Regions from separate parts of the Homo sapiens genome. Here region 1 is linked to region 2. The links come from fine-mapping of genetic effects on gene expression. Tissue or cell type: whole blood. Region 2 holds a variant in brackets; the other region holds the start of a gene. All regions are shown on one strand. Distances are between the middles of the regions.

The links. PIP is the estimated chance that this variant, and not a neighbour inherited with it, causes the effect.
Region 1: ZNF460-AS1 starts here. The variant in region 2 is fine-mapped to the expression of ZNF460-AS1 in whole blood (TOPMed, PIP above 0.99).

What each region holds. Positions count from the first base shown.
Region 1 is chr19:57,278,069-57,283,226 of GRCh38, forward strand. ZNF460-AS1 (ZNF460 antisense RNA 1) reads right to left here and starts at 2,266. Exons shown (of 3, transcript NR_136529.1): 1 at 2,211-2,266. ZNF460 (zinc finger protein 460) reads left to right here and starts at 2,417. Exons shown (of 3, transcript NM_006635.4): 1 at 2,417-2,768. The coding sequence starts at 2,739. RefSeq lists enhancers at 1,613-2,552, 1,667-2,258, 1,676-2,875, 2,259-2,850, 3,779-3,898 and a silencer at 3,273-3,322.
Region 2 is chr19:57,235,708-57,240,817 of GRCh38, forward strand. It overlaps ZNF805 (zinc finger protein 805), which reads left to right and starts at 4,925. Exons shown (of 4, transcript NM_001023563.4): 1 at 4,925-5,110. RefSeq lists enhancers at 4,523-4,742, 4,763-5,032. The variant A/G (reference allele first, on the strand shown) is at 2,444.

The sequences.
Region 1 (5,158 bases), 42 kb after region 2:
AGCGTCTATCCCAATCCCATTCTTTACCTGGGTACCCCACCACTTACCCAAAGTCATCCAATCAGTGCTGCAGTCTATTTCCTTTGAGTCAGGGGGGTCTCCTCAGCATTGTCCCTTTTGTGGTTTGCGAGAAAAGTGTTACCCGACCCCACCACTTACCCAAAGTTAGCCTTTGGGTCACGGGTTCCTGCAGTATAGTCTCTTCTGTAGTGGCCAGGAATGTGTTACAGGAAAGGGGTCCCAATCCATATCCCAAGAGAGGGTTCTTGGATCTCGCACAAGAAATAATTCAGGGCGAGTCCACAGTGCAAGTGAAAGCAAGTTTATTAAGAAAGTAAAGGAATAAAGAATGGCTACTCCATAGACAGAGCAGCCCCAAGGGTTGCTGGGTGCCCATGTTTATGGTTATTTCTTAGTGACTTGCTAAACAAGGGGTGGATTGTTCATGCCTCCCCTTTTCAGACCACATAGGGTAACTCCCTGACATTGCCATGGCATTTGTAAACTGTCGTGGCACTGATGGGAGTGTAGCAGTGAGGAAGACCAGAGGTCACTCTTGTCACCATTTTGGTTTTGGTGGTTTTGGCCAGCTCCTTTACTGCAACCTGTTTTATCAGCAAGGTCTTTATGATCCGTATTTTGTGCTGACCTCCTATCTCATCCTGTGACTCAGAATGCCTTAACTGTCTGGGAATGCAGCCTAGTAGGTTTTAGCTTCATTTTACCCAGCTCCTATTTAAGATAGAGTTGCTCTGGTTCATATGCCTCTGAAAAAACCATTTAAATTTAATTATAAGAGTCTGGCCAGAGGGGGTGGCTCACGTCTGTAATCCTAGCACTTTGGGAGGCCGAGGTGGGTGGATCACCTGAGGTCGGGAGTTTGAGACCAGCCTGAACAACATGGAAGAACCCTGTCTCTACTAAAAATATAAAATTAGCCAGGCGTGGTGGCGCACACCTGTAATCCCAGCTACTCAGGAGGCTGAGGCAGGAGAATCGCTTGAACCCGGGAGGCGGAGGTTGCAGTGAGTGGAGACTGTGCCACTGCTCTCCAGCCTGGGCAACAAGAGTGAAACTCCATCTCAAAAAAAAAAAAAAAAAAAAAAAATTTAAGAGTCACAAATATGTGAAAAAGAGAATGATGTCTTTATCAATTTTCAAAAATTACTATTGCCAGTGATGAATAACAGTGTTCCTTGCACACTAATTTAGCCAAAAATATTTCTCCAAAAGTACCGCATCGTGTAGGAAATTGACTCCATCTCCATTCCTTGACTATTTTCAATCTCAAAATTAAATCTCTTGGAGAGTACTTTCTGCACACCTTTCTATTTCCTTAACCATATATATCGTCAAACCATTGAAAGCTGGACTTTATTCTCTCACTTTCATAGTCATGAAAAGAAAAAAAAAAAGTTACTGATGGGGACTCCTAAGACTTCGCATAATATAATCTTTGCATAGTCTAGGATTGTTAAAATTCCTAACAAGACTTTATAAACTCTCCTGTCTGCAACCAGTTAATGCTGGGTTGGGCCAGGGTTCCCCTCTTTCCCGTCACTTATCCATCTACGCTCATTCTTTTCATAGCCTCACCCAATATCATGACTTGAAGTAACAGTTTACAGTAATAACTCCCAAATTTATATATCCACGCTCGAACCCTCTGCCAATGTTGAATCATAGGTTGAGTATATGGCACTACGCTTTGTGGTCTTACTGACGTTTCAAACTGATCATGCTTGAAATGGGAGTACTGGGCTTCCCGGCAAGCCTGCTCCACTAGCAGCCTCCCCACCTCAGGGTACGGGAAGTCCACACGTGGCGAACGCGAAGCCTATTACATCACCCGGAAGTCCCTGCATCCTACGAAGGCTGGGCCCGGCCAAAGGAGGCCCAATAGAGGGCGGTCTGTCCTTTCCCAGCAGGCTGGGCACACTGTCAGGCGTCCTCCTTTGGGTGGCTATTTTAACTGCTCATTTATCCTTTTCTTCTATGAAAAGATCCAGAAAAGAGGCAAAGCAAGCGAGAAGTCGCGGGCCCAGCCCACAGCAGGGTAAGCACCTTTGTTCGGGGTCTGAATCGGGGCGAATATCCCCGCCTCCTGACCTCGATTTTCCTGAGCTAGAAGGGACCTTTCGACCCTCCGACTTGTGCCTATACTAAGGCGGTGGCCCTAAGACGACGCGGGGGTTCTGGTGCGCACTTACGTGCAGTCGGATGCGCTGGGTGAGTTCCCACACCCGGTAGATGTAAGGGAAAAACTGCATTACCCAGAAGGCACTGCCCCTTGCGTCGGCCGCGGACTCTGGGCCATTGACGACCCAGGACAGGAGAGTTTTCTGCGGGCCAGGGCGGCGGAGGCGGGACTTCCGCTTCTTCGTGTGACGTCATCTCCGTGGGCCGGTTTGGCCCTGAAACAGTGTGGGGCCTAGAGCGCTGGGTGGGCGCGTTCTGCGGCCTGAGCAGGGACGGGTAGTGAAGCGGTTACGCCCCTTCTTCGCGTCTTGGCGGGAGCCTGACGCCCCGCTTCTCCCCTAACGAGGTGTCCCACCGGCGCCCGCCGAGGCCTAGGCCTCCGCAGCCGCCCTCCGTCTCCTCAGCCCCGACGCTGCGCCTTGGGCCTTGTGCGCATTTTTTTCGGGGGAAAACTGAGGCTCGGAGTGCGAAAGTCAGCCGAGGTCGCCCCGCCCAGGACAGAGAAGGGCTGTGGTCGGCTGATCCGCGGCATTCCCGGGATGGCGGCGGCGTGGATGGCTCCGGCGCAGGTGAGTGGACGAGGTTTCGGCCTTGCTGCTGCTGTGCTATTTCTAGAGGCCTCGTGGGCAGGCTGGAAGCCAAGACAGCCACAGGATTTTTCTTTGTCGCCATCGTTTATTTAAGAGAAATGGCCGTGGCTTGTCATTTCCTTTATCCGCAGTCCTGCAACAGTGTTGGCCTCTGATAGGTGTTCAGTCCGTGGTTGAAGGAGTGATGCTTCCTTCTAGGGATCTCATCACACTTCCCCTAAATCCAACCTTCTCTGTTGCCTGCCAGCCCGTACCCCATCCACCTGGCCAACCACCCCTGACCTTGTCTGTTTGCATTTTTCCCTGGTCCTTTGCTCTTCAGAGCCACCAACCTGACCGTGCAGTCCTCTTCCATTTTCCAGGCTTTCTCCTTGCACTTCCTTTTACTTCGAACACTGCCCCTGTAACTTTGCAGGGCCTCCCTTTCACATCCTTTTGGCATCTGTCCAGGTGTCACCTATTTGGAGGTGCCTTTTTTGGCAATTCCGGCTAAAGTGGCACCTTACACCCTTGCCCAGAGTCTGGTATTTTTGTGTAGATAATCTGATGGTATTAAAGAAGCTTGTGGATTTGAGTTTGTCAAGGATGTAATGGGAACAAAGAAAAATAATTGCAAAGAATGATATTAACTGTCATTGAGTCCTTGCTGTGGGCTGATCGGTGAGTATTATTTAACCCTCAGTTCGTTTAACCCTGAAATTTTTTTTTTTTTTTTTTTTTTTTTTTGAGACGGAGTCTTGTTCTGTCGCCCAGGCTGGAGTGCAGTGGCGTGACCTCGGCTCACTGCAACCTCCGCCTTTTGGGTTCAAGCGATTCTCCTGCCTCAGCCTCCTGAGTAGCTGGGACTACAGGTGTGCGCCACCACGCCTGGCTAATTTTTGTATTTTTAGTAGAGACGGGGTTTTACCGTGTTGGCCACGCTGGTCTTGAACTCCTGACCTCAGGTGATCCACCCATCTGGGTCTCCCAAAGTGCTGGGATTACTCTTTAGAATTAGGTTCTGTTGTCATCATTGTTTTACACAAGAGCAATTTGAGGGTCACATACGTCCAATTACCTGCCTTACATCACTGTAGCTCTTAAGTTTCTTAAGTCAGAAACTAACAACTGGTGTGTCTAACATCATAGCCTGTGTTTTTACCCTCTTCTTTACCCGCAGTGGTTAGGGAGGCCTGGGGGTGAGACCTAAAGTAACCTTTGCAAGATGAGGCCTCCTTCTAGCCAGTGATCTTGGGCATGAGGAGTCATGGCCTTTCATACTGGTGGAACTGTGTAGACTTAAAAAATGGTATATTGGTTGTTTAAGGAGTTCTCAGGGGACCTGTGTGGCTTCCACGGTGGTTTTATATGTGGTTCCCCTTACTCCCTTACCTGCTGACATATTCTGAGAGGGCACGTTTGTATGGTTATGTTGCTGAATGTACCCTCCTACTCAGCCAGGATAGATGTAATCTCCAGATGGGCCCATATTGTCTTGGCTACAACCTGCTGTGCCCTCTATGACTCTTGTTGCTTGCTCATGGAATCTTCTGGCCTCAGGGATGCCTGCTAGTAGGACTTAGGTAGAAAAGGAAGCGATGGCTCATTGTGAATTCTCCCTGGAAGCAGGTCCAGGCCCTAACACCTGATCAGGTGTCACCACGTCAGGTGATTCTTTGGTGAGGTGGATGATGATGACTACACTTCTCTGCCCTTGTCCATGGGAGTGGCTGAAATGTATATGTGGATTTGAAATGCTTCATTCTCATTAACTGCATTAACTTTGCTAATAGAGAAATGTCAGGTTACATAATCAGACCAGAGGGCCCTGGGCTTAAATCCTGCCTCTGTTGATAAGACCTGTGACTTTGGGCTGGGCTTGGTGGCTCACACCTGTAAACCCTGCACTTTGGGAGGCTGAGGTAGGTGGACTGCTTGAGCCCAGGAGTTCAAGACCAGCCTGGGCAACATGGGAAAACCCTGTCTCTACAAAAAGTACAAAAAATTAGACCGGCATGGCATCATGTGCCTGTAGTCCCAGCTGTGCAGGAGGCTGAGGTGGGAGGATCACTAGATCACAGGAGGTCAGGGTTGCAGTGAGCCGACATTGTGCCACTGCATTCCAGCCTGGGTGACAGAGTGAGACCATCTAAAAAAAAAAAAAAGAGAGAGACATGAACACATGAGACTTTGGGTAGACTGGTAGAGCGGAGGGTAGGACTGAGGCCCAGGTCTCAGGTCCCTGAGTGTGACATAGAGATGATGATGGTAAATTCAGATGCTGTGGCCTTTGCCTCAGTGTTTGTTTGTTTTTTTTTTTTTTTACAAACAGTTTTTCTTTCTTTCTTTGTTTTGATGGAGTCTAGCTCTGTTGCCAGGCTGGAGTTCAG
Region 2 (5,110 bases):
TTCAGGTCAGGCACGGTGGCTCACGCCTGTAATTCCAGCACTTTGGAAGGCCAAGGCAGGCGCAACACTTGAGTTCAGGAGTTCAAGGCCAGCCTGGCCAACATGGTAAAACCCTGTCTCTTCTAAAAATACAAAAATTAGCTGGGCGTTGTGGCGGGCACCTATAATCCCACCTACTTGTGAGGCTGAGACATGAGAATTGCTTGAACCTGGGAGGCAGAGGCTACAGTGAGCTGAGATCGTGCCATTGGAGTCCAGCATGGGAGACAGAGTGAGACACCGTCTCAAAAGAAAAGAAAGAAAACTCTTGTCTACTTTCTGCAGATAAATTCCCTGAGGGTACATAAACCTGCCACCTATCACAGTGGCTCCTTGATCCAACTTACTATTCTCCATGTTTTCAGGAGTATGCCATTTGTAAAACAGGACTGTCATCAACCCAAAGGTCCACTCTCTTTTTATGGACATCAATATGCTGCTGTCTCAGAAATAAAATGTTTCACTGCACGTCAGTGCAACCCACTTCTTAAGTGAATACACTAGCACCTCTGTGTTGTGTTGCACTCTGATGACATTAGAATAAGTCATTCCTCATAATAAATGTAATATCACCTCTTCTGAAATTACTGCATGCTGCAATTTGGGGAGTGGCCTTCCAGCCTTCTGTAACCTTCTGTGACAGCTTCATGTGGCAGCTGCTCCCTGCACCCATTATAAACTGACTACCACAGTAAGCATCTAGACTCCTCAGCTGTAAGCTCAAATGTTTTTTGATCAATGCAGTCAGTTACACCAGTATTTCTCCTAACTTTAGTTGTTAAGCACTTTATATGGAGTTTGCCTTGTTAATGTTACTCCTATCATTATATTCTACAAAGTCTCCTCATTGTGAAATATCCAGCAGTTGCAGGCATGATTTCTGCTATGACCAGACCCACTACGTAAGCATAAATAACTCAGCCACTTCACTTGGATGAAAAGCTCCCACTATTGCAGATCTATAAGTTAAATACTCCAAGACATTGGTTCATGGTTTTTAACCTGCACTTTCAGTATTTACCTCTTTTTTGTTTTTTCTTTCTTTTACCTGCATGGGGAGACACAGTGCTTACCTCTATATGCTTTGCTTCATCCTATCAGTTTTCCTGAATTAACATTTTAAACACTTGGCAATTCCTAATAAATTAACTGGTTCACACATATAAACTCTTACACATTTTAGGTGCTGGATAAACACATCACTGGGCACATTTTTGGCAGGTAAGGATAGAAAAATCACTAGGGCCTCAGCACTGATCACCAGATGATATATGTTTAAATAATGAAAACTCTGTCATGCTTTACATGAGGGATTTGAAAGTGTCCCCAGGCCGGGCGTAGTGGCTCACACCTGTAATCCCAGCAATTTGGGAGGCTGAGGCAGGCAGATAAACATGTGAGGTCAGGAGTTCGAGACCAGCCTGACCAACATGGTAAAAACCTGTCTTGACTGAAAAATACAAAAATTAGCTGGCCATGGTGGCTGTAATCCCAGCTACTTGCGAGGCTGAGGCACGAGAATCACTTGAACCTGGGAGGTGGAGGTTGCAGGGAGCCGACATTGCGCCACTGTACTCCAGCCTGGGCAACAAAGTGAGACTCTGTCTCAAAAAAAAAAAATTGTCACCAATATCTACATAGCTTTCTTCAGCAGCACTGATTCCAGACATTCCATGATGGAATATAAATATACTAACTTTAATATCTGTTCTGCATCCAAAGCGAAAACTAATTTAACCCTACGGGTCATACACATATGGAAAGGAGAATTATTCCTCTCTTCTAAATTGGGCAAATTAGTATTGTCAATGATGAGTAACAGTGTCAACAGCTTGCACGCTAATTAAGCAACATTTCTCAATAATCTCATTTTACAAATAATACCTTCTAGAAAATTGATTCCATCTACATTTCCACCCAGTTAACATCCTGTCATGATACTTTCTCCACTTTCAAATCTCTGGAGGGCATTTTCTGCACACCTTGTTTCCATTTTCATAACCATATGTATTGTCAAATCATTGAAAGCTGGATTTTATTCTCTAACCTTCATAGTCATGAGAAGAAAAAAAACAGTCACCAACGGAGACTACAAAGGTTTTGTATAATATGATTTTTTTTTTTTGAGACGGAATCTTGCTCTCTGGCCCGATCTCGGCCCACTGCCGTCTCCGCCTCCCAGATTCAAGCGAGTCTCCTGCCTCAGCCTCCCAAGTAGCTGGGATTACAGGAACCCGCCACCATGCCCAGCTAATTTTTGTATTTTTAGTAGAGACGGGGTTTCACCATGTTGGCCAGGCTGGTCTCAAACACCTGGCCTCAGCTGATCCACCCGCCTTTACCTCCCAAAGTGTTGGGATTACAGCCGTGAGCCACTGCACTCGGCCTGTATAATTCTTAAAAG[A/G]TTGTTATGACCCTAACATGACTTTGTTGCTTTCTTGTTTGCAACCAGTTAGTTCAGGGTTGTCAAAAGGCCAAAATTACAACAAATTTAGTTTTAGATCTAATTGACTTTTGTTTGTGATTCATGAATTGAGGCAATCTCTGTTCTACACAATAGAAATTAGAGTTCCCACTGGGCAATGGCAGAACAGTGGGTTTTGTAAGGTGGGAACAATAAAATAGAACAATAGAAAAAAAAGCTGATTGGTTAACAGATTACTTTTTCTAAGGGTTAAAGCAGAGGGGACTTCCTAATTTCACTAATTCAGGTAGACTGAAATCTGCTTTTAGGAAAAACTGGGATCTGTCTGCTTCCTTAAAACTTCAGTTTGATTAGATGACATTTAGTATGAGAGACGCCATTTTGATTTGGTCAGTGAGGCCTGCTGTAGGAGCTCCAAAACAATGGCCTCCTGTAATTTTTGTTTAACAATGTTCACCTCTTTCCATTCCTTTCTCCATCTATGCTCATTTTTTTTCATGGTCTTGTCCAGTATCATAACTTGAAATAACAGTGTTTGCCAAAAACTTCCAGATTTTTATGTCCAGGCACAACTTCTCTCCCAATATTCAGTCAGAGATTGAACTGCTGTGACACAGACACTCTGTGGTCATACAGACATTTCAAACTGATCATGCTTAAAGTTGGAGTCATGAGCTCACCCAGTCCAAGACTCCCCACGTTAAGGAATGTCAAATCTACTCTACCAGGGCTCTCAGCCAATACCTAAAGCAAAAGTTGCTGGACCATGTGAAGACCAAGCTTGGCCAAAGAAGGCCCAAGAGAGACAATGCATTTGCAACATGTCCCAGCTGGACAGGGTCTTGCTCTATTGCCCAGACTGGAGTGCAGTGGTGCAATTACAGGTCATTGCAGCCTCGACCTCCTGGGCTCAAGAGATCCTCCCATCTCAGCCTCCTGAGTAACTGGAATTACAGGGGTGTGCCACAATGCTCAGCTAATTAAAAATTTTTTTTGAGTAGGCTGGATGCTGTGGCTCATGCCTGTAATCCCAGCACTTTGGGAGGCCAAGGTGAGTGGATCACTTGAGCACAGGAGTTCAAGACCAGCCTGGGCAGCATGGTGAAACTGACTACAAAAACTACAAAACAAAACAAAAAAACCCTCAATTTGCTGGGCGTGGTGGTGCGTGCCTGCAGTCCCAGCTACTTGGGTGGCTGAGGTGGGAGGATCACTTGAACCCTGGAGTTTGAGGCTGCAGTGAGCTGTGATCGCGCCACTGCACTATGGCCTGAGCAACAGAGCGAGACCCTGTCTCAAAAAATATATATATAAATATATATATAAATATATATGTGCATATATATACGTATATATACATATGTATATATACGTATATATGTATATATGTATATATAAATATATGTATATATAAGTAGAGAGAGAGAGAGAGAGAGAGACGGAGTCTCACTCTGTCGCCCAGGCTGGAGTGCAGTGGCGCGATCTCGGCTCACTGCAAGTTCCGCCTCCCGGGTTCACATCATTCTCCTGCCTCAGCCTCCCGAGTAGCTGGGACTACAGGCGCCAGCCACCACGCCCGGCTAATTTTTTGCATTTTTAGTAAAGACGGGGTTTCATCGTGTTAGCCAGGATGGTCTCGATCTCCTGATCTCGTGATCTACCCGCCTCGGCCTCCCAAAGTGCTGGGATTACAGGCGTGAGCCACCGCGCTCTATTTTTTTTCTTTTCTTTTTCTTTTTTTTTTTTTTTTGGTACCAATGAGGTCTCGCTCTGTCGCCCAGACTGTTCTCAAACTCCTGTCCTCAAGCGATCCTCCTGCCACAGACTTCTGGGACCACAGGTGTGCGCCAGCACACTCAGCTTATTTTAAAAAAATTTTTTTTTTTTTTGGTAGTCTCCCTATGTTGCTCAAGCTGGTCTTGAGCTCCTGGGCTCAAGCGATCCGCCCCCCTTGGCCTCCCAATGCGCTGGGATCCCAGGCCTGAGGCATCGCGCCGCCCGACGTCCCCCTTTGGTTACTCTGACTGCCCGCTGATCTGTATAAGAGGATCCGGAGGGGAAATAATGCAAGGTGGAAGTCAGAGTCCGGAGCCTGGTCCAGGGTCTCTGCACTGGCCCTGACCCTGGCAAATGTCCCTGACTCCTGGGGCTCGATTTCCTCCGGCCAAGAATGGACGGTCTCGCGCTTGGTCCCTGGCCTCCGAGTTGTGCCCCCAGGACAGAGGCAGGTCTGAGCCGGGCTGTAGGCCCGCTGCGACTTTTACACCGAGGCCTGCCGGCTCAGGATCTGTCCCCTTTGCAGGTGGTTTGTAGAGAAAAACTACATTAACTACAAGGCATTGCCAGGTGCGACGGCGGGCCCTGGGGCCAATGATGGTCCAGGACAGGGGCGTTTCCTGTGGGTTGCGAAGCTTGGGGCGGGACTTCCGGCATTTGGATGGGACGTAATTTGGGAGCGACGGTTCCGTCCACGCCGGCTCTAGGGAGGGGGCGGTGTTCCGTGGCCGCCTCCCTGGCGGCGCTGGGGAAATGAGCAGGTAGGAGGCCGACAGCGACCTCCGCGTCTCGGAGCGAACCGTGAGCCTCCCCGTAACGAGAGAGTTTGACTGTCAGCCAAGGTCACCGGGCCCGGCGCAGGGAAGGGGT